Homo sapiens: one gene and its partner. The protein of the gene in region 2 interacts with the protein of the main gene of each other region in a biochemical or structural test. Each region holds a gene or a part of one and is shown on either strand. Other genes may lie near its edges.

Region 1 (15,120 bases), about 61 Mb from region 2:
CCGACATCTGGTGAGCCTTCATCTCTCCCCTGGCAATGCCTGGCCACCTGACACCTGGCCTCCCTCCTCTTTCCAGCAATCCTGGTACCAACGAATGGCTCACCACCACCCACCCCAATGCCCAGACCGCAGACCTGCATTCCTCCCATCTCACAGCCCCAAATCCAAACCGTTATTCATTCTACCTCCCATCCTACTCCTCACGAATTTCTTCCACCGTAGACTCTGGTTAATTGGACTGACTGAAGCCCAGGGGTCAGTTTCTGTCCTAAGAGCGCTCCAGGTGGCTGCACCCTGTGCCCAGAGCCAGGCCCCCTGCTATAGGCTCGCTGCACTCCCCCTGCAGGTGCTGGGGACACCGCAACCCTCCTCCTGGGGACACCTACTTGCCTTTGCAGGCCCTCGGGGGTCACTTCTCCCAGGAAGCCGCCTCTGGGTGAGGTAATATCCCTCTATCACAGCATTGGCCACACCACATTGCAAACGCTGCTGGGGTCCACTGTCTTCACCAATTACACCATGAGCTCCACAGACTCCAGGACCATGGCTTCTACCTCTCAGTTCCCAGTGCTAGCTATGGGGCCCAGCACACAGGGAACAGCAGTTCAATTACCCAGTTCACTGAAGGGCAGACCTGGGATCATACAGGGAGCAAGGAAGCTTGAGCCCCTTCAGGAGAAGGGGAAGAACGCGTGACCAAACCCTCAAAACAGACAAAAAGGAATGCATCCTAGGAGTGCAGTGAAAGTTGCCTTCATATAAGTGATTTAAGTAAGTTTTCTTAAGCCAGGAATGGTGGCTCATGCCTGTAATCCCAGCACTAAGAGGCCAAGGCAGGCAGATCACTTGAGGCCAGGAGTTGGAGACCAGCCTGGCCAACATGGCAAAACTCTGTCTCTACTAATAATACAAAAATTAGCCAGGCACGGTGGTAATCCCAGCTACTGCACTCCAGCCTGGGCGACAGAGCAAGACTCCTGTCTCAAAAGCAGTTTTCTTTCTGTAAGTCTTATTTACGTAAGAATATCATCCACTGAGGCCAGTAGTTTTGCCATTTCAATCACTTATTGCCACAACTCAACTTCTCTAAAGAACATTCTAGGTATATTCCCTAAACTATTTAAAGTATTTCTACGATCCTAAGCTGAGGCAATACAAGGAAGTCCTAAGCATTTCCTGCCTGTTTTCTTTGGTCTGAACCTATGAACTCAGGAATGACACAAAGACAATTTGTGATGGCAACCATCACATATAAGGGCTTACGTGGCGTGTGAATAAGAAACAGCAGCCAGGCACAGTCAGATCCTAAAGTTATAAACCTCCTCATGTTAAAGCTCCCTGTTTGTACATATACATGTACATATAAATTATACTGCAGAGACCTCATTCCTACCACCCCAACCTCTTTTCAAAAACGACATGATTTTTAAGAGACTGAAAAAGTCCATGGTAAGAACTGAATGCCCCTAAGAAGGTCTGCTAACATATTTCCCCCTGACTGAGCTGCTCAGACACAGCTGCCGCCACCACAGCCACCCGATCCTACCAAGCCGCCCCGGACCAGCAGGACGTCTCCGGAGACAGCCCTTTCCCAGGAAGCAAGGGCAATCCCCTATTTGGGCTCCAACAGTTTGAGTACCCAGAGGCAAATTCTGCCACGTCTACCCAAGGGCAGCCTGGGTAGAAAGGTGCCGGGCTGGCTGTTGCCATAGGAATGTTCTGCTGCCACCATGTAGAAAAGGTGTCCAAAGCCCTGGGAGGGTGGGTGGGGAAGCACGCACTTGGCACAGCCATTCAGGCAGGCTTTCTGCATGGCGTCGATGGTGTACCGCAGGAACTCATGCGCGTCCTCCTGGTTCCCAAAGCGGAAGTGTCGGGCGATCTCTAAAAGAGGAAGAAACAGGGAGGGAAGAGCTCGTGTCTTCTCATCAAACGGCCTGCGGCTGCTTTCCTGAATGGCCATTCCTGGCTGTTATAAGGGGAAAATACTGCAACTTTTCAAAGGAACAAGTGAGGAAAACAAGAGCTCTACATGGATTTTCTATATCCCAATCACAATTCATCATGGCCACCACTTTCTCAATAAGATTGCAGGCTTGAGCATTCACTACTGCACAGACAAGGAAGAACACCAAGCCCTCAAAAATGTAAAATGCCGGCTGGGTGAGGTGGCTCACACCTGTCACTCTAACACTTCAGGAGGCCTGGGTGGGAGGATCACTTGAGCCCAGGAGTTCGAGGGCAGCCTGGGTAACATAGGGAGACTTCATCTCTACCAAAATAAAAAATAAAAAAATTAGCCAGGCATGATGGCATGTGCCTGTAGTCCCAGCTACTTAGGTGGCTGAGGCAGGAGGATGGGTTGAGCCTAGGAGGTTGAGGCTGCAGTGAGCTATGATCTCACCACTGCAATCTCCAGCCTGGGCAATAGAGCAAGACTCTATCTCAGAAAGAAAAAGAATAAAGAATGTAAAATCCGGCAGGATGCAATGGCTTATGCCTGTAATCCCAACACTTTGGAAGGCCAAGGCAGGAGGATCGCTTGGAGCTGGGAGTTGGAGACCAGCCTGGGCAACATGGCCAGACCCCATCTCTACAAACAATACAAAAACAGTCAAGTGTGGTGCGCCTGTAATCCCAGCTACTCAGAAGGCCAAGGCCGACTGCTTGAGTCCAAGAGTTTGAGGCTGCAGCGAGCTGTGATTGCACCACTGTCCTCCAGCCTAGGTATAAGAGCAAAACCCTGTCTCAAACAAAAAGAATGTAAAATCCATTGAATATCTCTCCAAAAGCCAATATAAAACACAGGTGAGTAAGTATTTCACAGTGCTACAATTTACACAGATTTCAAAAACCGGTAATAGGCCTCTTCTTTCTGCCAAGTGAATGTGAATGAGACTTTTTTATAGCATAGGCAACTGATTCCTGATATTCAGAATGGAATTGGTACATTCCTCATCCATCCCTCCTCCCAGCTCTCCCTCAGGCCCACCTGCCTGCCCCAAATACACAATAACTCCTCCACCTGCCCAAAGGAAAAGCTACCTGTCCTGACCTGCCCCCACTAAGAGGCTTCCCCACTGACCCCAGCCCACATGTCTCTAAACTGCTATTCCTTGAGTCTGCACCACCACATGCAGGGCTGTTAGCACAGAGGGATTCCCAAGACTTCATCCATGACTCACTCTTCTCTCCCTTCTACCAACTCCCCAGCACCTCCTACAGGGCGAGCACTTAGCAGGCCTTCAGTAACAGATGGAGAATGGCACAGTGGCTCGTGTCTGTAATCCCAACACTTTGGCAGGCCAAAACGGAAGGACTGCTTAAGGCCAGGAATTTAAGACCAGCCTGGGCAACATAGCGAGAACCCCATCTCTACAAAAAATTAAAAAATAAATAAATCACAAAAATTTTAACATGGATTGATGCTTACTTTTCAGGTCTCGGATGAAGGAGACGGGCTTGATGGCGTTGCCGCTGTTGGCGAAGGCCTGGACAATGTGGTTCTGCATGACACACAGCATGCAGAAGCTTCCCTGGTGGCCTGCCGGCGTGGAAGGAGGAGCAATTTTAAGACAAGAGCTTTCAAAGAACTCACGGTGAGGCCCCCACCCCAAACGTTAACACAGCCAGAAACACAAGCAGGTAAGAGCAAACCAGGCTGTGAGAGAACGGCTGAGCCAGAGATCCCAGACCTCTGCTGACTGGGTGACCACCAAGGAAATGTTATTCTCTGCTGGATGGCGTTTGGAAGCTATGATCCATCCAAAGCTGAAACTCTCACCATCACAACCTCACACCATCACCCCACATTAATGCTGACCTGTGCATGATCCTTTTCAGATTTCACTAGTATTATTTACTTATAAAAAGACTAAGGCAGATTTTCAAAATGAAGCTTAAACGATGTATTCTCGAATTTCTAAGCTGCATCACATGGTAAATAGGCTAAAATATTTTAGGGCTGACAGCCCCTTAGTAGTGCCTCAGATATGGGACCGTCTGTTCCACTGGTTCTAGTAAACACCTCGCTAGGATACATCTGGGGTTGAAAATGTTTTCTGGGAAGATCCAGATAGCAAATCCTTTCCTATCTGAGGGCTATACAGTCTAGTCACAACTATGCTCCTGTATTGTAGAGGAGGCAGCCATAGACAATATATGAACAATGGGGTATGAACGTGTTCAATAAAACTTTATTTACACACACAGAGAGCAGGCCAGATGAGTCTGCCCACCCCTGCGCTACATAAAACGCCTCACTAGGCATTAGGCTAGACAGTGGTCCTTTTTTTTTGAGACAGAGTCTCACTGTCACCCAGGCTGGAGTGCAGTGGCACAATCTTGGCTCACTGCAACCTCCGCCTGCCGGGTTTAAGCAATTCTCCTGCCTCAGCCTCCCAAGTGGCTGGGACTACAGGCTCGTGCCACCATGCCAGGCTAATTTTTTGTATTTTAGTAGAGACAGAGTTTCACCATGCTGGCCAGGCTGGTCTCGAACTCCTGACCTTGTGATCCACCTGCCTCAGCCTCCCAAAGTGCTGGGATTACAGGCGTGAGCCATCGAGCCCAGCCCCGACAGTGGTACATTTTTACCTTTCAAATTATGATGTAAATAAACACTGCTGTGATCGCCGAACTCCCCTCAATCTCTCTCAACCCCATTTTCCATGTACCTTCATTCAAAGTCACCACTATCCTGAATTAGGCAATTATCGTTCTCATTCATGTATTATCACACACATGTGTATCCATGAACAATAAATGGCACTGTAGCTACATGTTTCCAAACTTCCTTTCTATAAATCGTATCATGCAGTTACGTATCATTCAGCAATGGCTTTACAAAAATCCATGTTGCTAGACATAGCTCCAGTTCCTTCAAATCTTCCAGCTAGAATATTTCACTGAATGAAGAGACCACTGTTATTTATGTATCCACCACTAACACACATTTAGCCTTTCCATTTTCTCTGCTATCATAGACATTTTGCAATGAACAATCCTGCACCTGTCTCCTTGAGCACATGGGTCAGTTTCTCTAAAGTACACGCTCAGAAGACAAATTTCTGGACCAAAGGGCAAGCACGCCTTCAAATCTGCTAGATACTGTTGTCTACTACACAGTGCATTACCTATTATCTATTATCAAATAGATCCATCTCATAACACAAAACTCAACCCAAATCATTTCCCCGCAATATCTCCAACTCCTTAGACTTCAAAATCAATAATGCAACAGCATGCAGCCTGCTTAGCAAATAGACATTAAAATGCTATTATTTACACAAAATTCTTCTTGAAGAGATGTAAAAAACTCTCCATGAGATTGCCTTTACATAAAGGGGAGGTTTTTTTCATTTTAGACTTCTGCTTGCCTTTTCTAACTATATCCATGTTATTACTTTTATTTTTAAAATGACAATAATGATTGGTGAACTCAAAATTAGGCAAAAATTATGTCATTTAAAAGAAAATACAGGCCAGATGCAGTGGCTCACGCCTGTAATCCCAGCACTTTGGGAGGCCGAGGCAGGTGGATCGCGAGGTCAGGAGGTTGAGACCATCCTGGCTTACACAGTGAAACCCCGTCTCTACTACAAATACAAACAATTAGCCAGGCATGGTGGCACGTGCCTGTAGTCCCAGCTACTCGGGAGGCTGAGCCAGGAGAATCGCTTGAACCTGGGAGGCGGAGGTTGCAGTGAGCCAAGATCACACCACTGCACTCCGGCCTGGGCGACAGAGTGAAACTCCATCTCAAAAAAAAAAAAAAAAAAAAAAAAAAAAGGGACAACATAAATATTGAAGAGCTCTTTTTTTTCCAAAACCTAACTTCAGGTAAGATACAGTTTTACTACAAAAGAAAATGGCCATGGGGGCCCACACCTGTAATTTCAGCACTTTGGGAGGGTGAGGCGGGTGGAACACGTGAGGTCAAGAGTTCAAGACCAGCCTGGCCACTTGGTGAGACCCCCATCTCTACTAAAAATACAAACATTAGCCGTGTGTGGTGGCAGTCACCTGTAATCCCAGCTACTTGGGAGGATGAGGGAAGAGAATCGCTTGAACCTGGGAGGTGGGGGTTGCAGTGAGCCGAGACTGTGGCAACTGCACTCCAGCATAAGCAACAGAGACTCTGTCTCAAAAAACTGTGTAGAAATTAAGCCTCTAATCATTATATATAAAACGCTGCTGGTTGGGCATGGTGGCTCACACCTATAATCCGAACATTTTGGGAGGCTGACGCAGGAGGATCGCTGAGCCCAGGTGTTTGAGACCAGCCTGGGCAACACTGCCTAACCAAATCTCTACCCAAAGAATACAAAAAAAAAATTAGCTGGGCATGGTGCTATGAGTCTATAGTGCCAGCTACTTGGGAGGCTAAGGTGGGAGGATTGCTTGGGAGGTGGAGGTTGCAGTCAGCTATGATTACACCACTGGACTCCAGCCTGCGTGACAGAGTGAGAGCTTGTCTCAAAAAAAAAAAAAAAAAAAAGCTTCTTTCAGCCTAATAAAATATCACTCTTAACAGGGTAAATAACAATCTAAGCCAGGTTCTCCAGCAATATATGAGATTAATTTAAGTGGCACATGGACAAATATTTATTCATGTAATTTAGGAAAATATAACTCAAAAGTCAATCCATGACTACACGGACATAGAGAGATTTGGGAAACAAAAGGACAGGACTGAACTGCGTTCCTCCTAGACTATTTACACAGTGTTTCTCTTCTAGCTAAATATTAGCGCCAGAGACAGTCCAGCCTACGGCAGGAGCTGCTGCTCCGTGCCACGTGCACAGTGGACCCTCGTCAGAACAAACACCCCTTAGGATCCTCAACTCTTCAAATGCCATGTGCTAGGAGGGGGAGACCACAGCCAAAGCCCACTTAGGGGTCACTCAGGATCCAGTGGGGTGCAGGAAAAAAAGGCCACAACGTCTCTTCATATGTTCCAAGATAGTAAGATGCACTAATATTTCACAGTGATACTGGCCCATGGGACCGGTATTGGAAGGAAGACCAGGCGTTCCCCTTGAAGGGATGGCCATGGCTGCCTTACTCACACGCTTGCTGCTGACATGCTGCAACAAACTGCAGCTTACCTGTGCCAGGTTACGGGGATTTACAGATATTATCTAGTTTTAACTAAATTAATCCTCACAAAGTTGGCAACTGGCTCAAAAAGATCCTGCAGAGAAACCAAGAATGGAAGGCAGCTCTACAGTGGAAGAGCCCTGACAGGCCTGGGATAGCAGAGTCTTACTGCCAAAACCATGAGACGAAAACAACAGCCATCTAGTCAAATCTTACTGAAAGTCCACCCAGAACCACCTCAAAATTACCAAGGTCACCACTGGAAATAGGGGCTACAATTAGCCATCTCAACAATGTGCTTCTGCAGGGCACGGTGGCTCATGCCTGTAATCTCAGCACTTTCGGAGGCAGAGGCAGGCAGATCACCTGAGGTCGAGAGTTCAAGACCAGCCTGGTCAACATGGTGAAACTTCGTCTCTACTAAAAATACAAAATTAGCCAGGCGTGGTGGCGGGCACCTGCAGTCCCAGCTACTTGGGAGGCTGAGGCAGGAGACTCTCTTGAACACAGGAGGCGGGGGTTGCAGTGAGCCGAGATTGCACCACTGCACTCCAGCCTGGGCGACAGAACGAGACTCCATCTCCAAAAAACGCCCCCAAACAATGTGCTGCTTCATCTCAACAACTATGCCTTGATAATTAACCTTTGCTGCTATGAAGCCATCGCAATTAGCAAGATGTTTACAAACACTTCCCACTGCATGGCCATCTTGTGTTCTTTTTTTTATGTTTTTTTGAGACGGAATCTTGTTCTGTTGCCCAGGCTAAAGTGCAGTGGTGTGATCTCAGCTCAATGCAACCTCTGCCTCCCAGGTTCAAGTGATTCTCCTGCCTCAGCCTCCCAAGTAGCTGGGATTACAGGTGTGAGCCACCGTGCCCAGCCAGTAGCAGTCACTTCTATAGCACTCCCTCTTTGCGGGCTGCTACTCCAGGCACTTGACTCACTCAGAATTTATCGGAGCCTCACGCAACTCTGTAAGGAAGACAGTCTCATTCTTCCATAGACCAGGGACATTCTCAAAAACTCACAGTTACTAAGGGGCAAACTGGGAAGCAAACCCTACAGGCCAGGCTCCTGAGCTGTGTTTTCAACTGCTCTGCTCCCTCCAGAATTCTACTTAGAGATTTTCTGCGATGAAAACATCCTGCATTCCTAGGATAAACATAAGTTGCTTACAGTTTTTTAGAAACTGTGTCATTTGGTAGTATTTTCCTACAATTTTTATATCTATGTTCGTGAAGAAGTTGTGGTTATCCATTTTCTTTCTCGCATTTTCCTTATTATTGTTATCCGAGTTATAGGAACTTTATAGAATGAGCTGGGAAAGATTCTCTCCTCCTCTATTCTTTGGAAGAACGTGTAAAGGATTGGAATTGTTTCTTAAAAGTTACATAGAAATTGGCTGGGCACAGTGGTTCACACCTGTAATCCCAGCACTTTAGGAGGCCAAGGCGGTTGGATCACCTGAGGTCACGAGTTCAAGACCAGCCTGACCAACATGGTAAAACCCCATCTCTACTAAAAATACAAAAATTAGCCAGGCGTGGTGGCGTGCGTCTATAGTCCCAGCTATTTGGGAGGCTGAGACAGGAGAATTGCTTGCACCCAGGAGGCGGAGGTTGCAGTGAACTGAGATCACACCACCGTACTCCAGCCTAGGCAACAGAGTCCGTCTCAAAAAAAAAAAAAAGTTACACAGAAATAACATTGTCTCTGCTTGGGGTTTTTTATGGGAAGATTTTTAACCAATGCTTTAATTTCTTTAATAGTTAAAAGACTCTTCACTTTCTATTTCTTTCAGTTTTGGTAAGTTATATCTTATTTCACCTCTATTTTAATCAAATAGAGCACACCACCACATCCAGCTAATTGTTTCGATTTGTTTTTTGTGTGTGTGAGATGGAGTCTTGCTCTGTCACCCAGGCTGGAGTGCAGCGGCATGATCTTGGTCAGCTCACTGCAACCTCCACCTTCTGGGTTCAAGCAATTCTCCTGCTTCAGCCTCCCGAGCAGCTGGGATTACAGGTGCACCCCATCACGCCTAATTTTTATATTTTTAGTAGAAACCGGGTTTCGCCATGTTGGCCAGGCTGGTCTCCAACTCCTGACCTCAAGTGATCTGCCCACCTCTGCCTCCCACAGGTGTGAGCCACCGTGCCCGGCCTTGATTTGTTTTTGTAGAGATGGGATCTTGCTGTGTTGTCCAGGCTGCACGTTTTATAATACACATAAGATATGCTGATACAACAACAGATGCATAAAACAATTGGGCTAGGCATGGTGGCTCACACTTATAATCCCAGCACTTTGGGAGGCTGAGATGGGAGGATCATGTGAGCCCAGGAGTTCAAGACTACAACGAGTTGTGATGGAGCCACTGCATTCCAGCCTGGGTGTCAGAGCAAGATACTGTCTCTAAAAAAATAATATTTGTATATATATATATATATATATTTTGGAAGTATCTTTTGAAAACGTTTCTGTCTGGGTAATTATTTACAGAAAAGCTTGGCGAACACAGCCCCACCTGACCGATTCACCTTCATGGCCCATTCTGCAGCAGGCATGATTCAAATTTAGGTTTCATCAGTTACTATACATTATGAACTACCCTCCTAAATTTGACCCAGACTGAGAGCAGCAGTGCCACAAGTGCATGGGCTTATCTAATCCAGAGGACCCACAGCCACCCCACTGCTGCAAACCCACACTCACAGCTGCGAGCATGCTCCTTGGAGAGCAGGTAGTTGGCTAGAGGTGGTGTGTAGGTCAAGCACTGGATGGTGGCATTGAGAAAGCAGGTGTTGCCAAGGTTGTGGAGTCCTGCGCCCACGCGGAAGACCCGCTCCCACCTCAGAGACAGTCGCTCCGTGGGGAAAAGCACTTTCTGCGGGGCTGGGACTCCGTCACCACAGCTCTCATACGTGTGCTCACTGCCTGAGGAAGAAAGGGACAAGGGAAGAAAAGAGGAAGACGTAAGTCCACACACAGGTCGTCCACAAAAAGAAACTCCTGAAGCATACACTTAGCATGCAGTGACTCGGAACATGGCACCAGAGAAGAACTGGTGTTCTGGTTTACAGGACATTCCTGGAAAGCTCAGGAGTAAACCCAGCCATCCCACGGACCTCCTAGGCTGCTTGGCTAAAGAATTCAAGGGCCCCTCTATAGATGGAGGACACAGCTCAGAGACTGAGTGGCGGAAGGAGCCAGGCCTGGCACTCTGCACCACACTGTGCCCACATGCAGCCCACCCCATTTCTCTTTCTTAGTTCCAAGCCTGACTTTCGACTGTATTATACTTGGGATAGGGGGACAGCAAGTCCAAGGACCCACCAAGTACACAGATCCACCAAGCACACAGATTTCCTTGCTACCAACCCTGTATCATTACTTCTATAACTGAAATCCACTGACCCCATGTAAAAATTCATAACTCTTTGACCACATTCTCTTGTTTTTCCTACTAATTAGTCAATATTTAAGTCCATCCACTTCGTCACCCCGGAGTGAGGGCCTCTCTGCCAGCACACTGCACATCTGTACCCTGTCTCCTGGCCGGTGGGTCATCTCCACTCTTGTGGCGACTAGCTCCCTCTGTTTTGGGGTTGAGCAACACATATTTGCTCTTTAAGGCCTCCAGCTGGTAGGAGAAGCTCTTGCTGGCTGGCTCGAACTCGATTTTCTGTAAAAGGACCTTCTTGGCAGAGGAGGCAAGAAGCTTCCCCAGTTCTCCATCATCAGCCGAGTCCTTGCGGCCGGGTTTCAGGGCCTCCTTCAACTTATCCACTATTGGCATGGTGCATCACTGTGGGGACAAGAAGAAACATAGAGCCATAGATAACGAAATCCCGGGACAAAAACATCTCTTAAGATCTCCTCTTTGGTCATTATGGATGCTAGCCACCACAAAAGCTCCCCTGGATCAGTGATCCCCTGGATCAGCTGCACAAAGGAAACAGGGAGACCCAGCACTAATCACTTGGACATATTAGTTCACATTTCCCCCACAAAAAGATAAGATGCCACTACAAATAGAGGTGAGCAGACAACAGTGGCCCTGAGGCAGCCAGACAGCCCCTGCCATGTGCATCTCTTCATCAGATACTCATCAAGTGGCTCTGGACATCATTCTTGGTGCCATTTCCTTCCAAAGGTCATCACGTGGTCCAAATGTCTGCTCCAAAACAGGGGCACACTAATTCTCACATACAAACTGGTTATACACACACGGACACACACACACACACACACAAACGGACACACACACACACACCCACGCAATAAATGAATTAGCATGCAGGTCAGATGAGCATGCATGTCTGTACAGACCTGCACTCTTCAATATGAAGGCCACAGGCCACACGTGGCTACTGAGCATGTGAAATGAGGCTAGTCCAGGTTGAGAGGTGCTATAAGTGTAAAATGCACACCAGATTTTGAAGAGAAATACTCACTAGTATAAGAAGAGAATGTAAAACATCCCAGTAATTTTTAGATCAGTTACCTGTTGAAATGGTAATATTTTATATATATTGAGTTAAATAAATTATGAAAATGAATTTCACCTGCTTCTTTTTAATGTGGCTACTATAAAATTTTAAATTATATTTGTGGCTTGTATTAATCTCCATTACACAGTGCTTGGAGTACAAATTATCTTTTTAAAAGTGAGGAAGGAGAAGAAAAGCAAGTAGCAGGCCTAGAGACTAGTATCCATTAGACACCTAAACTTAAACAAATGTCTTCCCAGGACTCTTATCAAAAGAGAAGAAGAAAAGCCAAGCAGGAGAGTGGGGAGATCACAGGCTTTGGAATGTGGTGGCCCCGGGAGGTTCTATCATCCTTAGCTATGAAACCCAGGGACAACTACTATGACTTCTCCAAACCCCCTATTCTACTGTAAAATAGCAACAAAAATAATAGGCTTGGGAAGTGCTTTAGAGCTTGCTACATACTACAGTCCCTAACAGAGGATCGATACTGTTGGTGCAGCTGCATGGAAACTGTAACCAAGAAGAGACCCCTGCACCTCTCCAATCGCTACCTTTGTATCCACCACTTGCCCTCCCCTACCCACCACCTCTCAACTTAACCTTCCCAAACACAGCACAGACTATCTGAGTCACAATTTCAAAAATATGTCCCTTAAATTGCTCACTCACATCAGAAAAATGATGACTTCCTCTGGTATTCAGTACCCAGCCTGCCCTCAGAGAATCAACAAGTCAAGTGTGCCCCAAAATTCTGCTCTAGTGAAAGTAAGGACTTCCTCCAGCACCTCATATTAAGCCATTCAAATTTATCACTGTGGATCATCTAATTCTATACATGGATCAAGTATCTTTTTCTACAAAAACTTCTGTAAAGAAAAGCCAGGTGCAGTGGCCTGGGCCTGTCGTCCCAGATGCTTGGGAGGCTGAGGTGGGAGGATAACTTGAGGGCAGGAGCCTGAGGCTGCAGTGAGCTATGATTACGCCTGTGAATAGCCAGTGCAGTCCAGCCTGGGCAACATCGTGAGACCCCATCTTTAAAACAAAAAAAATCGTGGCTCACGCCTGTAATCCCAGCACTTGGGAGGCCGAGACGGGTGGATCAGGAGGTCAGGAATTCAAGACCAGCCTGGCGAAGATGTTTCTCTACTAAAAATACAAAAAAACTAGCCAGGCATGGTGGCAGGCGCCTGTAATCCCAGCTACGCAGGAGGCTGAGGCAGAGAATTGCTTGAACACGGGAGGCAGAGGTTGGAGTGAGCCGAGATCGCGCCACTGCACTCCAGCCTGGGCAACAGAGCAAGACTTGGTCTCAAAAAAAAAAAAAAACAAAAAACAAAAAACTTCTGTAAAGAAATTTCAGAAGCTTATTTAAAAAAAAGCATTATAAGTTGTCTGATTTGAGAAAATAAAAGAGCCTTTTCTCATGAGAATTATCAAAGACTTCTCACCAACTGAACAATCACTGCTGCGTCACATGCAGACAATTCAACGGAATCAAAAAATACACAGAAGCCTCGCAGACTCACCTGGGATGTGCAGACTTGGGCCTGCTGTCCTACTGCGGCATGGAACCAGGATCTTAACGGAGGGCTGAGTTTGGTTGGGCAGGTGCTACGCGGAGCTCCTGAATGTAAGCGCTCCTGGACTGTGGCCTGTTCAAACACCGAAGCCGCAGAGCGGGCGTCAGAGCCTGTGGGAGGGACAGGGAGACCATCAGTGGAGGCGACTCTTCCTGTGCCTTCTCTTCAGCTACTTCCCAGGGATGCGGCGCGCACCGGGAACCCTCTACCACGAAAAAGCCGTCCAAGGAGCATCCACGCGTGCACTCAGGATGAGGCGGGTGGACCGTACTACCTCATCACCAGTTGTTGTAATGCACACGATATGAACACCTTAACCTTGACCCCAGACAAGCCCAGAGAAGGAAAACCTCCCCAACACCTGCCAGTCAGCTCCAGTCTAATCTTATTTCCAAAGAGTAAGAGGTAATAAATCCCCAAGTTTTGGATTTAATGAACCAGTAAAACTTCAATAACAACAACAACAAACCTCAGGGAGTAATAGGAGTTGCCAAAATTTTGCTTTGCTAAGTGTGGATTTTCTCTTTCATTACCATCTACGATCACTATGATTACATAAAATTAAGGTTCGTAAAAACAGTTTACAGTGAAAACATTCAAACACACAGATGGAGAACCGCACAGGGAGCACATGAGCCCCCCTTATTCAGCCTCAGTAACTACATCTGACCCATCCTGAGTCACTTCCCATCCCCAGGTAATTCTACAGCAAATCTCAGACCTATGACTTCATCCATAAATAAAAGCATACCAACTCCCGAAAAATGTGTAAGGAAATGATCTCAGAATAAAAGCCATCTACAAAGTGAAGACATCCAGTCGTATTAAAAACTCCCCACAATATCACTGCTTTCGGTTAGGACTCACATCTACCCTGGAAGGTGAGAACTCTGTCATGCACAACCAACGCTTGAGAACCACTTAGGGAGGGGATAAACGAACCTTGGGAGATGTAACCCAGTTTCACTCGAGATAAGTAACTTTGAACTTAACCCACTCCTTAATGTAGATGCAGAGATTTTGAACACAATTTTTCAAGTGGGACAGGTCAATCTCTACTTCACCAATTCCACCTAAAACATTAAGCAATAACCTAAACAACGCTCGCTCGCTCTCTGACGTGTAGGAGCCCGAGACAAGTGTTCCTGTAATCACTAGCAATCCCTCCGACGCACACACCATCCACACTCTACCCAACTCAGGAAGGATGCTCTCTCTTGTCCAAGGACAGCACAGGCCTCATCCACATTTCCACCTGCGCGAACCCCAGCCAGCACCATTTAGGCTCATTCCCGCTCCCTCCTCCTTCTAAAGTCACTTTTCCAGGATGAACTGCAACGGACGCTCGCAGGGTCAACCACGTGCTGGGGAGAGGAGCCCACGGAAGCAGCGGCCTCCCGGGGCCCAGCGCCGCGCTCCAGGGGCCTCCCGGGCGACTCCGCAGCGCCTGCCCCGAGCCCGGCCGCGGACACAGCGACCCGAGCACCTCTCCCCGAGCATGGCTCCGTGGCGAGCGTTACGTAAACGGGGGCGCGCGGAGTCTCCCCTCTCGTGTGTCTGGGTTTGGCGGCCGCCACTCCAGCCCCAGGCCCAGGACCCCCACGCCACCCGCCAGAAGCAGCAGCATCGGAACCGCACCCCGCCCCGGGCTCCATGGCCTCCTCCGCAACCACGAGGAAGGTGCCCGCCCCGGGGCCGCACCCGCCCCGCTGAGCTCTGCGGCCGCACGCGACGCCCTCGCCCTGATTCCGACTTCAACCTCTCCGAAGTTGACCTGAATCCTGCACAGACAGCGGGCCCCGGCGACCCCCATCACCGGCCCGGAGCCCGGGGGACGGCGGAGACCGGCGAGGACAGCCCGGCCCCGGACCCTCCTCGGGAATACCCGGGCTCTGGAGAAGCGAGCTCGCGAGCGGGCGGAGCATCCCGGGTCCTCCTCGGGG
Region 2 (15,327 bases):
CTCAAATCCCCAAGAACACAAGAAGACCCATCCTGAACTGGGATGGAATGGCAGCATGCAAACTTGGATCAGATAGCAGGAGGAACTTTCAAAAGTCTGGCCCACTGTGCAGTGGAGCAGAAGGCAGGACCATGAGGCCTCCTGCCATGTACCCATTGCAGACCCTGCCCCTAACTCCTGCCTATGACACAGAAGCCCCACACCAGTTGCCCAGATGAACTGGCCTCTGCCTTTGGTTTACTCAGGGTCTGATGTTGGAATCTGCTCCAACTCCACACCCTAGCCCTTACATGTCCTCCTAAGGGGCCCCTCCTTGTGCTGCCAGTCAGCCTGGATTTCTGGTCTTTGGTTATTTCTGTGCAAACAAAAGGTGTGCCTGGCAGCCATTTCTCCATGGAGTTGCTAAGTGGCCGGAAAACAAGCCTGAGGGAGGAGGCAGGAGTTGGAGTTACCTTAGGCCCCTGATTCACTGCCTATGAACAGACCATCCCCCACTCCTTGGGTATCCCCAACCCCAGACCCCCATCACTTGATGGGCCACACAAGTTTGAGAGTGGTACAAGGGAGAAGTTTGGGAAAAGCCTTCTTGGAAAATGGGACATTAGCATTGAGTTTTGAAAGATGAGTAGGAGTTTGCTAAGAATAGATGGAAGACAGCAGGATAAACATTCCAGAGAAAATCATGTTTATTCCCTGCTGTATCTTCCAGAACCTAGGAGGATGCCTAACAGAGAGTAAGCACTTAAAAAATATTTGTCATATGAATGAAAAAATAAACGAGTGAATGTTGATAGAAAGTGCTGGTGCTTTGGGGAGCTTGTGCGGGGCAGAGAACACTTGGGGAGACTAGATAGGTAGATGGGGGCATAGCTGCAAGATCCATGGCAGCAGAGAAAGGATTTATCTACTTATTCAGCCATTCAATAGCTATTAAATACCTACTGTGAATGAGGCAAATACCAGGCACTGGCAGTTAATCACAGTCAAATCACCGCAAACTAGGATAAGACCTGTGAGTGGGAGTTAGCTAGGGAAAGAGGAAAGAGAACAACATACGCAGGGGCCCTGAGGTGCGCATTACTTGTAGCAGGATCTGAGACTGAAGAGGCCGGCAAAGATGGTTTCGATAGGGCTTCTGGGCTACATTAAGAATTTAGGATTTCTGGGCCAGGCGCAGTGGCTCATGACTGTAATCCCGGCACTTTGGGAGGCTGAGGCAGGCGGATTGCCTGAGCTCAGCAGTTCGAGACTAGCCTGGGCAACACGGTGAAACCCCGTTTCTACTAAAATAAGAATAATATACAGGGGCAGCCTGCCCCTGTAATCCCAGCTACTCAGGAAGCTGAGGCAGGAGAATGGCTTGAACCTGGGAGGCAGAGGTTGCAGTGAGCCAAGATCATGCCACTGCACTCCAGCCTGGGTGACAGAGTGAGACTCCATCTCCAAAAAAAAAAAAAAAAAAAAAAAAGAATTTAGGATTTCTGGGCCGGGCATGGTGACTAACACTTGTAATCTCAGCACTTTGGGAGGCTGAGGCCAGTGGATCACTTGAGCTCAGGAGTTTGAGAGCAGTCTGACCAACATGGTGAAACCTCTCCTCTACTAAAAATACAAAAATTAGCCGGACATGGTGGCATGCACCTGTAATCCCAGCTACTCAGGAGGCTGAGGCACAAGAGTCACTTGCACCCAGGAGGCGGGGGTTGCAGTGTGTCGAGATCGCGACACTGTACTCCAGCCTGGGCGACAGAGCGAGACTCGGTCTCAAAAAAAAAAAAAATTTAGAATTTCATCCCAAGAGCCATGAGCAGCCTTCAAAGGTTTTCCAGAGGGGGAAGGGGAGGCACAACCTGCACAGACTGTACTTTGTTAAAGCCATTCTGACCACTGAACGGTGAGTGAATGTAGGAGTTGGGGAGACCAGAGGGGGCTGCTGCAGTGTTAGCTGGAAAACTTGTCATAGATTCTAGTGGTGGTGATGGGTGGGGAGAAGTTGGTAACTGGGGAGAGATTAGAAGGCCCAGCTGGCAGGACTAGGGGGTCAATCAGACCATCCTGGGATGGAGAGGATCAAGAAAGAGCCCCTGATACAAATGCCACAGGGCTGTCCTGCTTTTCACCACTGCCTTGGGTTGGCTTTCCCCAGAAGCAGACCCCAAGGTGAGGAAAGTAAGGAACTCACCAGAAAGAGTGTGGTGTCAATCAAGTTACCACTGTGCAGGGGCCATGCCTGGCAGCAGCTCACTTAACCCCTGGGGTTCTGCCTGCGGCGCTGATGCTCAGTATAGGGACCCCCAAAACAGAGCACAGTGGGCTCCAACATGAGGCAGCCCTGAGGCCTGCCCTCTGCCCCTCATTTCTCATTGTTGTGAGATCATACATGGTGTGTGTGAGGGGGAGGGGGTGTCAGGCTAATTCTTTTGCCCCAAAACCTTTTCCCTAGTCAAGCTGAACTATGAGGCTCAGGAAGGGATGATGTGGCAGAGTGAAAACGAGGGGGCCCTTTTGGCTTTCAGAATACAACTGGGGCCTCCCACACAGACTACAAGCGGCTTCTTGGAAGTAGATCATCCAGGTTGAGCCAAAATGTGAATCACCTCTTCTCTAGGTTGACACAGCCTCTCCCATAACGGACACTGCATTGGAAGCTTCCCTGTGTTCCTCCCTGACTGCTCTTGAGCTAGGACTCTCCCCTCTCGGAGCCCCGGTGAGGGACAGCACAGATTCTGGAACCAGGCAGCCTGGGTTTGAATCATCACTAGGCCACATACTCGCTGTATGGCCTTGGGCAAGTCATTTCACCTCTCTGGGCCTGTTTCCCTATATATACAATGGTAATAATAATAATGCCCTCCTCATTGAATTGTTTGGACGATTAATTGGGCTAGTATATGCACAGGTCCTGGCACATAGTAAAAACTTGATAAGCTTTTTAAAAAAATGTCCATTCCAGGCTGGGCGCAGTGGCTTACGCCTGTAATCCCAGCACTTTGGGAGGCCGAGGCAGGAGGATCTTGTGCCCAGTAGTTCCAAGACCAATTTGACAACATGGTGAAACCCCATCTCTGCTAAAAACAGAAAAATTAGCGGGGTGTGGTGGTACACGCCTCTACATAGTTCCAGCTACTCAGGAGGCTGAGGTGTGGGAGGATGTCTTGAACCCGGGAGGTCGAGATTGCAGTCAGCCAAGATCGTGCCACTGCACTTCAGCCTGGGCAACAGAGACTCTGTCAAAAAAGAACGAGGAGGAGGAGGGGAAGGGGGAGAGAGAGAGGGAGACGGGTGATAAGGAACTGGCATGGGCAACAGCCATGGCAAACAGCCTGGGCAAAGGCCAGGAGGTGAGACACAGTATGTTTGTAGACCTGGCTTACAGGATGAGGACCAGGCTGGGGCTCAGTGTACATGGAAAGAGAGGAGAGGAGGAGCCAAGGCCAGAAGAGTCTTGAAGAAAAGCTTTGAGTGCCAAATAAAGCAGGGGAACTTTATCCTGGGAGACATGGGAGATTTTCCAGCAGATCCCCCCCGACCCCCATTTGTTGGAGCCCTCCAGTGCATCCTGCACGGCTACGCCTTTTTGTTTTGTTTTGCAGCTCTGTCGCCCAGGCCGGAGTGCAGTGGCGCCAGCTCGGCTCTCTGCAGCCTCAATCCCCTGGGCTCAAGGGATCCTCCCACCTCAGCCTCCTGAGTAGCTAGGACCATAGGCGCGCGCCACCACGCCCAGTTCATTTTTAAAAATTTTATTGTAGAGATGGGGTTGCCATGTTGGCCAGGCTGGTCTCAAACTCCTGGGCTCAAGTGATCCGCCCGCCTTGGCCTCGCAAAGTGCTGGGATTACAGGCGTGAGGCCCCGCGCCCGGCAACGCCTTTGCTGACTGCTTCAAAACTTTTTTGAATTGACTGTAGTCATTATCTATAGCTTAGCCTTAGCCTTGCGCCCGTTCGTTTCCTGGAGTTTTCTTCCAGAGTCCCCGTAGGAGGTGCCCCCACGCCCATCTCCAGCACCAAGGAGGCTCGACGCCAACCCCAGCGCGCCCCCACGCTCGCCGTCACCGGGACGTGACTCGTGAAACGTCCGCTCCGGGCGGCGGCGGCAGCGGCGGCAGGCTGGCTTGTACCCCGACAACGCGCGTCTGGCTTCTGCCGGACGTTCCTATCTGGGTTCAGAACTGGGGCCGGGTGCTGCAGGTCCCGCAGTCTGAGAAGTTTTCGCGGGTTTCAGAAGTTTCCTTAGGCGTTCTAAGGGCTTTACTCAGGTGGAGTCTCCATTCAGGCACTTATTTAACCACCCATTTCTCCTTTAGGGGTCCTCGCTGCTCGCCCAGCCGCTAATTAAGTGACGGACACAGTAGCTAAGGAGACTGCCTGATTGACACGCATGATTACCAACCGACTTCCGGAAACTCCAGTCAGGGCCTGCCCGGCGCGTGGCCCACGGCCCAATTAAAGAAGTGGAAGCGCCAAAGGGGGAGGTAACGGAGCGGCCTACGTTGTGGCGGTTCCCTGGTGAATGCGCCCTGGGGTTGAGGCGTCTGCGGGCGTTCGGACGATGCCGTGACGCGGCACGGCGACACTGTTGGCAATATGAGCGCACCCCTGTAGAGGGAGCCCTTCGGTCCTGGAGGCGGCGCGGCGTGAAGACAGGTTGCTATTTGAGAGCGTTCCCTTGAAGCCCCTCAGAGAGTGGGGGAGGGGCGGCGGACGGCAAGCGGTTCCTGTCTGCGCTTGCGCCGGCGCCTCTGCCGACCCGGCCTGCACGCACGCGCATGCCCGTAGCGCGCGGAGCCGCGGTGGCCGGCAGCACTGCGCGTGCGCGGTGAGGAGCCCGCTAAGGAGCGGCGCTGGCGGACGTCGGGCTGGCTGCCCGTGACGTCGTGCGGAGAGCTTTAAAGTGCGGGCCGGGCCGGGCGTCCGAGGGTCTGGTCGGGAGTCGGGCCGCGTCTCCGCAGCAGCCCTCCGCGGCATGAGGCGCTGCCGGCGCCCCTGCCCCGCGGGACGTGGAGAAGGTGGAGGAGGAAGAAGCCCCGTTGTCGCCACCGTTGCATGACCCGCCGCTCCTGAGGCCCTACCCCACGCCCGGACCCTCGACGCCCCCCGCCGGGTCCCCCACTCACGCATGGGGGTTCGGCGCTAAGGACCCCCCTCCCTCCGGGGGCCCCGGGGCGCGTCCCCTTAGAGCCATGCCCGGCTGCCCCGCCCGCCCCGGAGGACCCTAGAGCAGCGTCGTGGGGGCCATGGCGGCCGCCAGCGGCTACACGGACCTGCGTGAGAAGCTCAAGTCCATGACGTCCCGGGACAACTATAAGGCGGGCAGCCGGGAGGCCGCCGCCGCTGCCGCAGCCGCCGTAGCCGCCGCAGCCGCAGCCGCCGCTGCCGCCGAACCTTACCCTGTGTCCGGGGCCAAGCGCAAGTATCAGGAGGACTCGGACCCCGAGCGCAGCGACTATGAGGAGCAGCAGCTGCAGAAGGAGGAGGAGGCGCGCAAGGTGAAGAGCGGCATCCGCCAGATGCGCCTCTTCAGCCAGGACGAGTGCGCCAAGATCGAGGCCCGCATTGACGAGGTGGTGTCCCGCGCTGAGAAGGGCCTGTACAACGAGCACACGGTGGACCGGGCCCCACTGCGCAACAAGTACTTCTTCGGCGAAGGCTACACTTACGGCGCCCAGCTGCAGAAGCGCGGGCCCGGCCAGGAGCGCCTCTACCCGCCGGGCGACGTGGACGAGATCCCCGAGTGGGTGCACCAGCTGGTGATCCAAAAGCTGGTGGAGCACCGCGTCATCCCCGAGGGCTTCGTCAACAGCGCCGTCATCAACGACTACCAGCCCGGCGGCTGCATCGTGTCTCACGTGGACCCCATCCACATCTTCGAGCGCCCCATCGTGTCCGTGTCCTTCTTTAGCGACTCTGCGCTGTGCTTCGGCTGCAAGTTCCAGTTCAAGCCTATTCGGGTGTCGGAACCAGTGCTTTCCCTGCCGGTGCGCAGGGGAAGCGTGACTGTGCTCAGGTAACCCACCCGGGTGGAGGGGGCGGCCCTGCGCCTGCTGCCTTAGCTACCCACCCTGGCCCAGAAAGCAGCAGCCCGTAGGAGTCTGCGTTTTTTACAGTTCTGACCAGTTCTTCTGTTTGTAGATTGTAGGGAGCGAGAGAAGGGTTTTGTGTTTAAGATACCTATAGCAAGAAAATAGGGAACCGATGTGGAAATCCTGTCCCCGAAGGCAGGTTTGACGGGATCACTGACTTGGCTGAGAATTCATCGAAAGCCATCTTTTCAGAAGGCTGTTCCCTTTGATTTTTTTTTTTCCCACCATCCATTTCTTAGCATAAGTCCCTTTGTGATTTTCCGGTTTTCCATTCTGGCCTTCCATTTACAAATCTATGCTTTAAAATTTTTTTTTTTTTTAATTTATCTAAAAGTCTTTCTTGTTCTGCCATTTTTGGATTCCTTAACAGAGAAAGTAGTCACAGGCAAAGGCCCCAGAGATTATTTAATTGAAGCACATTCTCCATTCCCAGGAGGGGGAGTGACTTCCCTGGAGTTGAACAGATTAGTGGTTGGGCCAGGCATACAGAGCAGCACACTCTTAAAATTCTTCCCTCCTGGCTGCAGAAGAGCCCATCAGTTCTTTGTAAGAACGTGTTACTTGTAGTCAGGACTGAATACAACAGAATACAGCTGGTCTCTTGACTGTTTGGCCTTACAGTTGCGTGAGCAGCAGAACTTAGGCTTTTGGCCTATATTCGGTTCCCAGATCCTGCTGAGAATTAGCTCAGTGCCCTGGCCCCCAGAGGAGATTGCCATTGGGAACACCTTTGCTGTTTATGTGAAGTGAAAATTTATTTGGAAGCGGCCTCCTTCCAGTCCTGAAAAAGGTAAACCTAGTAATGTAATTCAGTAATACCCAAAACATCTTAGGTTTAGACCGCAGCTGTTCTCAGAGCAGCTTGGTTGACCACCACCAAATACAAGGTTGAGGACACACTGGGCTTTTGTCGTGAGCAGCCCAGGTTCTGAAGTGAGTCAGTAGGGCCAAAGTCATGAGGAGAAGCAGGGTCCCTGGAGCCTTCTTGATATGAGATTAGGTCATCTGTTTCATTTGAGTCTAACAGCTGAGGCTGCTTCCATGTTGGGGATGGCAGCAGAGCCTTGTAATGTCCAAGACGTCCTGGTGGGAAGGTGGGAAGTCAGTAGTAGCAGAAGCGATACTTTAGCTCTTTAGGCATCTGAAACTTAGAGGACAGCCTAGCTGTCAGATGCCTTCTTATAATGGGCTTCTGAGCTTCTCAGATCTTCATGGCGCTCCTAGATGGATGTCTTGGCAAAATGCTTTAAGATGGGATTTCCAGGACACACCCTCTCCGGGTGCTTGCTGTGTAAGGCAGGTTGGGGTCTGACCCCATTGACGGGTTCTCAGTGCAAAAATTACCTCACACAAGGACCATTTGGTCTCTTAGCGGGATATTAATTTTCTGCGTAGTCATTGGCCCTCAGGGTGGTTGTCAGGAGGTCTAGTAGTGGTCTGGTGCTTAATGAGGGGATCACAAGGCATTTTTTTTTGGTTTTGGGACTACTACTCTCCTTAACACATGCCCACCCTGTATTTTAAGAACAGAAGTTTCGAGTTCTTAGTATGCAGGTCTGTTAGTGATCAGCAACAGGATTGCATCATCAGGAAAATTCTCTTCATCTTTTCCTCAGAATAGTAAAGTCCTAAAGCTTTCCCAGTCCCTGTCAACCCTTTCTGGATTCAGACTTGGCTGTGGTGTTAGTGTGGGAGGCTCAGCCATGTCCTGAAAAGTGCTGCCCCAGGCTTTGAATCCAGCTTTTCTCTCATTTGCTTTGGGATCTTGTAGGCGTTCTCTGAGCTGGCTTTCCCATCTGTAAGTGGGGATGATGCCAACTTCCAAAGCCTATTAGAATTAAATGTGGTGATTTGTTGTCTAAGATAGGGCCTGGCACAGGGTAGGTACTTAAATGGGTGCTTGCTTTCATATACAACCACTCAGTGATCCCCTGCTCTCTCACTGGGGAAGGAACTAGGGATTTGGTGGAGCCTGAAACATGACAGTTTCCCTTCGTGTAGTTCAAGCCCCATGGAGGCCTCAGACAGGAGGATAAGTTATAGCCCAGGAAGGTAACTGCAGAAGCACACTGAAGGGGGACATCTTTTCCACTTTGGAGTGTTGGAAGTTTAGGGGAGGAAATGAACTGGAATGTGAAAAGTGACTAGGAATGAGCCAAGCAGAGAAAGGTGGAGAAATACACAACAGCAGTGTCTTTGGCTGCAGTAGCAGGAGTAGCCATAGGTAAGAGGGGGTGGATGTTGATGGGAGGCAGATGGAGTTCATTAGTAGAGACTGTGGTTGAGGGTGCTCTGGTGAACTCTAGATCAGGGCTTCTCAACAGTGCTATTGTTATTCAGGGCTTGATAATGCTTCATTGTTGAGGCTGTTCGTGCATTGTAGACTGTTCAGCAGCATTCCTGGCTTCTATCTGCTAGGTGCCAATAGTGTTTTTTATGACAACCAGAAAGTGTCCAGACACTGCCAAATGCCGAGGCAGGGGAAGTGCAGAATCCTTAGTTGAGAGTCACTGCTCTAGGGTCTGGACCCTTCCACTAATTAAATCTTCTTGCACCTGCATACTTAGCTTACCTTGGTATGCAGGTGGGTGAACACCTGCCTATTAGTAGTGCCCGTCGTCAAATCCTGCATATAAACTGGTAAGAAGTGGTGCTTTCTCTTTTCCTGGTACAGATCCTAGCCCAGAGGTGATGAGCAGTAAAGCTGCAGATTGGAAGGGAGGGGCTGGTGAAAACAGTGGTGCGGTGCAGATGGGGAGGGATTCTAGTAGTAGGCATCTTAGACTTCAGTTGGTGTTGGTGGCAATGGTATCTGTACCCCTCTAAGACCGCATGGCAAGAATACAATTTTATATTTAATAGTGATCAGCATGGATGTTGGTGCGTCACAAACATTGACTCAGCAGTGTCTAAACCTGGGCATTTAGAACAAGGCCTCACAGAATCTTCTGGAAGTGCTTCAAACTCCTTTCCAAACCTAGTCGTCAGTTGTTTTTTGTAACCTTCCCATGTTAGGCCTGGGTGGATCCCCTCTTAAGGCTGTACTTTAGGGAAATATTTTTTATCTTCATATCACTTTATCTGTCATTCATTCTCCTATTCCCTGTTGGCTGCATGGGGCAGATTAAAACAGACTCTGATTGGACTAATTAGAATAATTACTTCAAGGCTAATTGCTTACTTGCTGCTATCTTTAATCACTGCTACGTGGTCTGTGGTGTGGTGGCCACATGCCCAGAGACCCAGGCCTAGGCCAGCCGTCTGGAAATGACTGTATCACCCAGGCACGGGGCATGCACTGGTGAGCTCAGCCTGTGACTCTTCCAGTTAACGGTTGGTATTGGGTGGAGTGGGCACCCCTGTCAGTTCTGGGATAGTCTGATCTTGTTCAGCTGGTTGAAAGCAAAATTTAGCTTTCTGGCTTAAAATAGTTGGGAAAGTAGGGCAGATAGGTCCTGGGCCACATCTCTTGTGTGGACTCTTCTGATTCCACTGGAGGGGGAGGAACCACAGGATGAAGTCAGGGCTGTGCACCGTCAGGAGGAGCTCTGGGCCAGGGGGGTTGGCTGCCCTTGCTGCTGCCAGAGCCTGACAAGGCAGAGGGCAGTAAAAGAAAGGAAGCTAACAGTGAACCATGGTGTTAATCATGAAGCTCAGAGCAAGCAGAGAATAAATAGGCCATAAAAATTTCAGAGCTGGCCAGGCTTAGTGGCTCATGCCTGTAATGCCAGAACTTTGGGTGGCCAAGGTGGACGGATCATGAGGTCAGGAGTTTGAGACCAACCTGGCCAACATGGTAAAACCCCATCTCTACTAAAAATACAAAAACTAGCCGGGCATGGTAGTGTGCACCTCTAATCCCAGCTACTCAGGAGGCTGAGGCAGGAGAATCACTTGAACCCGGGAGGCGGAGGTTGCAATGAGCCGAGATCGAGCCCTTGCGCTCCAGCCTGTGCTGTAGAGTGAGACTCCGTCTCAAAAAAAATAATAAAAAAAAAAATTTCAAGGCCGGGCGCGGTGGCTCACGCCTGTAATCCCAGCACTTTGGGAGGCCGAGGTGGGTGGATCACGAGGTCAGGACATCGAGACCATCCTGGCTAGCATGGTGAAACCCTGTCTCTACTAAAAATACAAAAAACAAAATTAGCTGGGTGTGGTGGCGGGCGCCTGTAGTCCCAGCTACTTGGGATGCTGAGGCGGCAGAATGGCACGAACCCGGGAGGCGGAGCTTGCAGTGAACCGAGATCATGCCACTGAACTCCAGCCTGGCAGCCTGGGCGACAGAGCAAGACTCCGTCTCAAAAAAAAGAAAAAGAAAATTCAGAGCTGGCTGGCCAGTTGGTGGATAGCCTTCACTGATACAGTGCTAGCTCTCTGGGGGATATAGGTTCATCTCTGCAAATCTCTTTCATGGGGCTAGTGGGTGTACGTGTGCCCTTTGGTGAGGCCAGCAAGGCCCCCTGGACAGGCTTGCTACCAGGAAACACAGATGGGCTTTTCTTCCTACCGCCTCCACAACAAAATCCAGAAAGTTTGACAGCAGACTTGGTTGGAGTTACAGCACCACCATTTTAACTCGTTGACTTCGGGGAAATTAAGCTTTTTGAGGCCTCAGTTTTCCTCATCTGCAAAACCAGTCTAATGATGCTATAGAGTTGTTATAGAAAGTTGAATCTTTGTCATCTATTGAATGCTTGAAATTTAGCTAAAAGTGTCTCAGGAGATGGGCTACCTTCTGTGTTTAGTACTGTCTATCTTGGTGTGTACAGAATTGGGACTTGGCAGGTTGACCTTCCCTCTGGATTCAGAAAGCCCCAGGACTTCTTATAAAGTTAGGCCATGGGTCGTCTTGGAGGCTTGGGTCTGGTAAATAATTGAGCCTGAGCTCACAATCCTGCCCCTGGGTCCAGGTGGCTGGTCTGCTGCCCCCAAAAGCCTGACCTTCTTGGTCCTGTGGGTCTGTCAGTAAGGCAGGTAGCCATAGCTGGAGAGAGACAGTCACCAGGCTGGGATCTTGGACAGTCCCTCCATCTCTGGTTCATCCTGGCCTAGGCAGGGCATGGAGTAGATGGAAAATGGTGGCCATCTTGGAAATGTGTCATAACAACTCAGTTTCCAAGACCGTCCCCTAGAGGAGAGATGTACAGTCCTGCATAGTTTCTTTAAAGAATTTTTCAGGGCCAGGTGCGGTGGCTCATGCCTGTAATCCCAGCACTTTGGGAGGCCAGGGCGGGTGGATCACCTGAGGTCAGGAATTCAAGACAAGAATGGCCAAGATGGTGAAAGCCCGTCTCTACTAAAAATACAAAAATTAGCCGGGCGTGGTGGCAGGCACCTGTAATCCCAGCTACTCGGGAGGCTGAGGCAGAGAATTGCTTGAACCCAGGAGCTAGAGGTTGCAGTGAGCCAAGATTGCGCCACTGCATTCCAGCCTAGGCAACAGAGTGGGACTCTGTTTCCGAAAAAAAAAAAAAAAAAAAAAATTTCAGACACCTCATTTAATTTGCACCTAATCTTCTGAGGAGGGGCTTGCTGTGATCTTTGTTTTGCAGAGGCAGAAACAGGTTCTAAGTGGTAGAATAGTTCAGCTCAACACACATTTCATTTAGTGTCCACTGTGCAGGGATGAGTAAGGCCTTTGAAGAGCTTTGTCTTGAAGGGAAGACACAATTTCCACAAGGCCAGATGGAATAGCAAAGAGGCATGAGAGGGTGTGGTTGAGCAATGTAGGGGGAACCCAGCCTGGGCAGTCAGGGAAAGGCCCCCAAAAGAGGAGATAGACATGTCAGCTCCTTCGAGAGTCACTCTGAGGTATAGGACTAGTGGGTGACATTTGCAACATATACTGGTCAGTGCCTCTGGGGCTGGGGCTGGGGGCTCAGCCCAGAGAGGGAGCAGGCAAGCCAGATGGCATAAGGTTATTTCCTCTTCTCCTTTCCCTGTGAAAACAAAAAAGCAGGAGGTCCTGGAACTTTTCATGCCAGCAGTAGGGCTGGACCCAAGGGCATATTAAGTTGCAAGCTGGCCGACTGAGACTTTCAGACAATTTATTTTGTAGCAAGTAGGTTCCTTAATAGTAAATAATACCCTGTGGTCTCTGCTCGACATTTTGTGAGATTGGCCAGGAGAGCTTCCCTTAATCAGGACTTTGAGCTCATGTTGCCAGAGCAGCCGGATATTCTGAGGAAAGGGTCAGTGGGCTGTGTCATAGCTGCTAGGAAGTTCTAGAAGACCAGTACTAATAAGCCTTCCAGGTTGGGTCAGTGCCAAAGTCATTTTTGTGGGCCTGTGCAGCCCTACCTCCATACTAGTTCTTCCAAGGCCTGGGCTCCGTGGCAGGAACCTGACATGGCTTATTGTTTGTTCTAGAGCCCTTTGGGGGATGGGGTCAGGGAGCATGCGGGCAGTCAAGCTTTGACAAACATCTGGATTTGCTCCAGAACTGCATTAAGAAAAGTGGTTCCTTGTTGGAGATGGGAAGTCAGGGCCCTTGGTTATGCATATAGCCAAGTCAAACAGATTGATAACACTTGTCAATGGCAGGGAAGGTTGCCTGTAGCCAGCACTGCAGATTCAGGACTTAGAAACGTGCCTCTGGGGCCGAGCATGGTGGCTCACACTTGTAATCCCAGCACTTTGGGAGGCCGAGGTGGGTGGATCACGTGTGATCAGGAGATCGAGACCAGCCTGGCCAACATGGGGAAACAGTCTTCACTAAACATACAAAAATTAGCCTGTAGTCCCAGTTACTTGGGGGTCTGAGGCAGGAGAATTGCTTGAACCTGGGACGTGGAGGTTACAGTGAGCCAAGATCATGCCACTGCACTCCAGCCTGGGCAACAGAGTGAGACTCTGTCTTTAAAAAAAAAAAAAAGTGCCTTTGAGACCTTTGACAGCTCTTTGGGAAAGTATTGTGTGTCTATATGGGACAGTCTTGCAGTCTAGACCCCCATTCCCCCAGTGTGGAATGATAAAAGCATGGGATGAGAACTAGAGTTCCTAGCTCTGGAAATGGGGCCCAGGCGGCCCCCACTACTGGCAGATCCCTGCAGGGGGAGCCCAGACCATGTCTCTTTGGCAGATGCTGAATCCAGGGCTCTGGCTTGCCCCAGGATAGTCCAGGGCCCTCTGACTTTTGTCAGAGTGCTTAGTAAAGATTGTAGGGTGTCAGGCACCCTGCATTATCTGACTTAATTCTCGCAATACCCCTGCAGGTAGGCCTCTCACCACCCCTTTCCAGGAGTGTCAACCAAGTAGTCATATAATGCTGTTTTTCTGCCTGGAAGGGAGGAGGCCCCGTTTTTAAAATCTTGTAATCTTAAAAACTTTAATCTTGTAATCTTTAAAACTGTCCCCATTTTTAAAATCTTGTAATATTAGTAGCAGCAAAAGAATAGCTAAATTATAAAGCATAACAAAATGAATACCCAAGAACCTACTGTTCTCCTTATTACAGATGAAGAAACTGTACAGGTTTTTAGGTTCAGCATGTGATTTAACAAAGGTCACAAAGCTAGTAGGAGACAAAGCTCACATTTGAACCCAGGTCTCTTCAACTCACTAACTCCTGTGTGGTACTTCTCACTGTGGGCTGATGGGTATTAATAGGTATTATGAGAGAAGGTTCTTTGGTAAGTGCTCAAAGTCAGTGGGTTCTTTTGCTGTAGTAATTCTCATGTGCTTTAAATATATTAATGCTTTTTGAAACTCTAATCAGTATTTTACAAATTGATTTCACTGTAGACATTCGTCCACTGTCTTTTTCTTTTTTTTTTTTTTTTTTTTTTTGAGACGGAGTCTCACTCTGTCACCCAGGCTGGAGTGCAGTGGCACTATCTCGGCTCACGGCAACCTCCACCTCCCAGGTTCAGCGATTCTCCTGCCTCAGCCTCTGCGATAGCTGGAATTACAGGCACCTGCCATCATGCCTGGCTTATTTTTGTATTTTTGTAGAGACGGGGTTTCACCATGTCGGCCAGACTGGTTACGAACTCCTAACCTCAGGCAACATGCCCACCTTGGCCTCCCAAAGTGCTGGGTGGGATTACAGGCGTGAGCCACCGTGCCTAGCCTGTCTACTGTCTCTTATGGGACTGGTGTTCATGGAGAAAATTTTGAAAAATTCTTGTCTAGGAGCAGCTTGAGGGAGAAGGTGGATCTATAAAATAAAGGTTTGGGCCGGGCGCGGTGGCTCACACCTGTAATCCCAGCACTTTGGGAGGCCGAGGCTGGCGGATCACGAGGTCAGGAGTTCAAGACCATCCTGACCAACATAGTGAAACCCCATCTCTACTGAAAATAACAAAAATTAGACAGGCGTGGTGGGGTGCGCCTGTAGTCCCAGCTACTTGGGAGGCTGAGGCAGGAGAATCGCTTGAACCCGGTAGGCAGAGGTTGCAGTGAGCCGAGATTGTGCCACTGCACTCCAACCTGGGTGACAGAGTGAGACTGTCTCAAAAAAAAAAAAAATTAAATAAAATAAAGGTTTGTTCTATCCCCAGCATGAGCTCAAATCAGATTTCCAAATCAGAGGTGCTTCCTTAAGGCTGAGCCTGAAGCAGTCTGGCTTTTTATCTCTTGTTGGCTCTTGCATCCAGTTATTAGAGCTGAGGTTTGGCCAGCCTGGCCATCTTGAGGGGTCCTTCCCAGGCCTGCAGTGTTTTTAATAGTTAAGTTTGTGTCTGTACAACTAGCCTTTGAGAAGGGAGCTGATCAGCAGCCATGAGAGAAGGGTTTGTGGTACAGGGCCAGGTAGGGAAACTAAGCCATACTTGTCCTACTAGGCTTGTGGCTGAGTTTCTGGGTGTGTAGAACTGCTGCAGCTCAGTAGAGTAACTTGGAGTGGGAGTATCTTGTGGCTGCCATGCTTCCAGTGATAGCATGTGAGGGGTATAGGAAGCTCAGAGCTTGCTTCCAGAGTTTCAAATTGGAATGACGCTAGCTGAGAAGAGGACAGTCATCTACCCACATTAGTTGGTCTCTGAGCGGTTTTAAAAGTCATGTAACTTGTTGAAAATAAACAGATATCTGAGTATGATGGAAATCCTTTTTTTTTGGGCGGGGGGCAGGGGGTGGGGGTCAGTGGTGGGGACAGAGTCTCGCTCTGTTGCCCAGGTGCAGTGGGCGTGATCTTGGCTCACTGCAACTTCTGCCTCCTAGGTTCAAGCGATTCTCCTGCCTCAGCCTCCCAAGTAGCTGGGATTACAGGCGCCCACCACCATGCCTGGCTAATTTTTGTATTTTTAGT

What was found.
Region 1: of the proteins of ALKBH5 (region 2) and USP36, one has a biochemical effect on the other in vitro, tested with the Homo sapiens proteins (one study listed by BioGRID).

The regions. Positions count from the first base shown.
Region 1 is NC_000017.11:78,825,464-78,840,583, forward strand, and holds part of USP36 (ubiquitin carboxyl-terminal hydrolase 36), read right to left. Parts: exon of another isoform or gene 14,816-15,120; intron 14,548-14,815; exon of another isoform or gene 14,376-14,547; intron 13,288-14,375; 5' UTR 13,124-13,287; intron 11,609-13,123; exon of another isoform or gene 11,434-11,608; intron 10,910-11,433; 5' UTR 10,901-10,909; coding exon 10,648-10,900; exon of another isoform or gene 10,536-10,647; coding exon of another isoform or gene 10,519-10,535; intron 10,039-10,518; coding exon 9,817-10,038; intron 3,545-9,816; coding exon 3,434-3,544; intron 1,885-3,433; coding exon 1,782-1,884; intron 1-1,781. UniProt on the Homo sapiens protein: Deubiquitinase essential for the regulation of nucleolar structure and function. Required for cell and organism viability.
Region 2 is NC_000017.11:18,179,010-18,194,336, forward strand, and holds the start of ALKBH5 (RNA demethylase ALKBH5), read left to right. Parts: upstream 1-4,818; 5' UTR 4,819-5,234; coding exon 5,235-6,004; intron 6,005-15,327.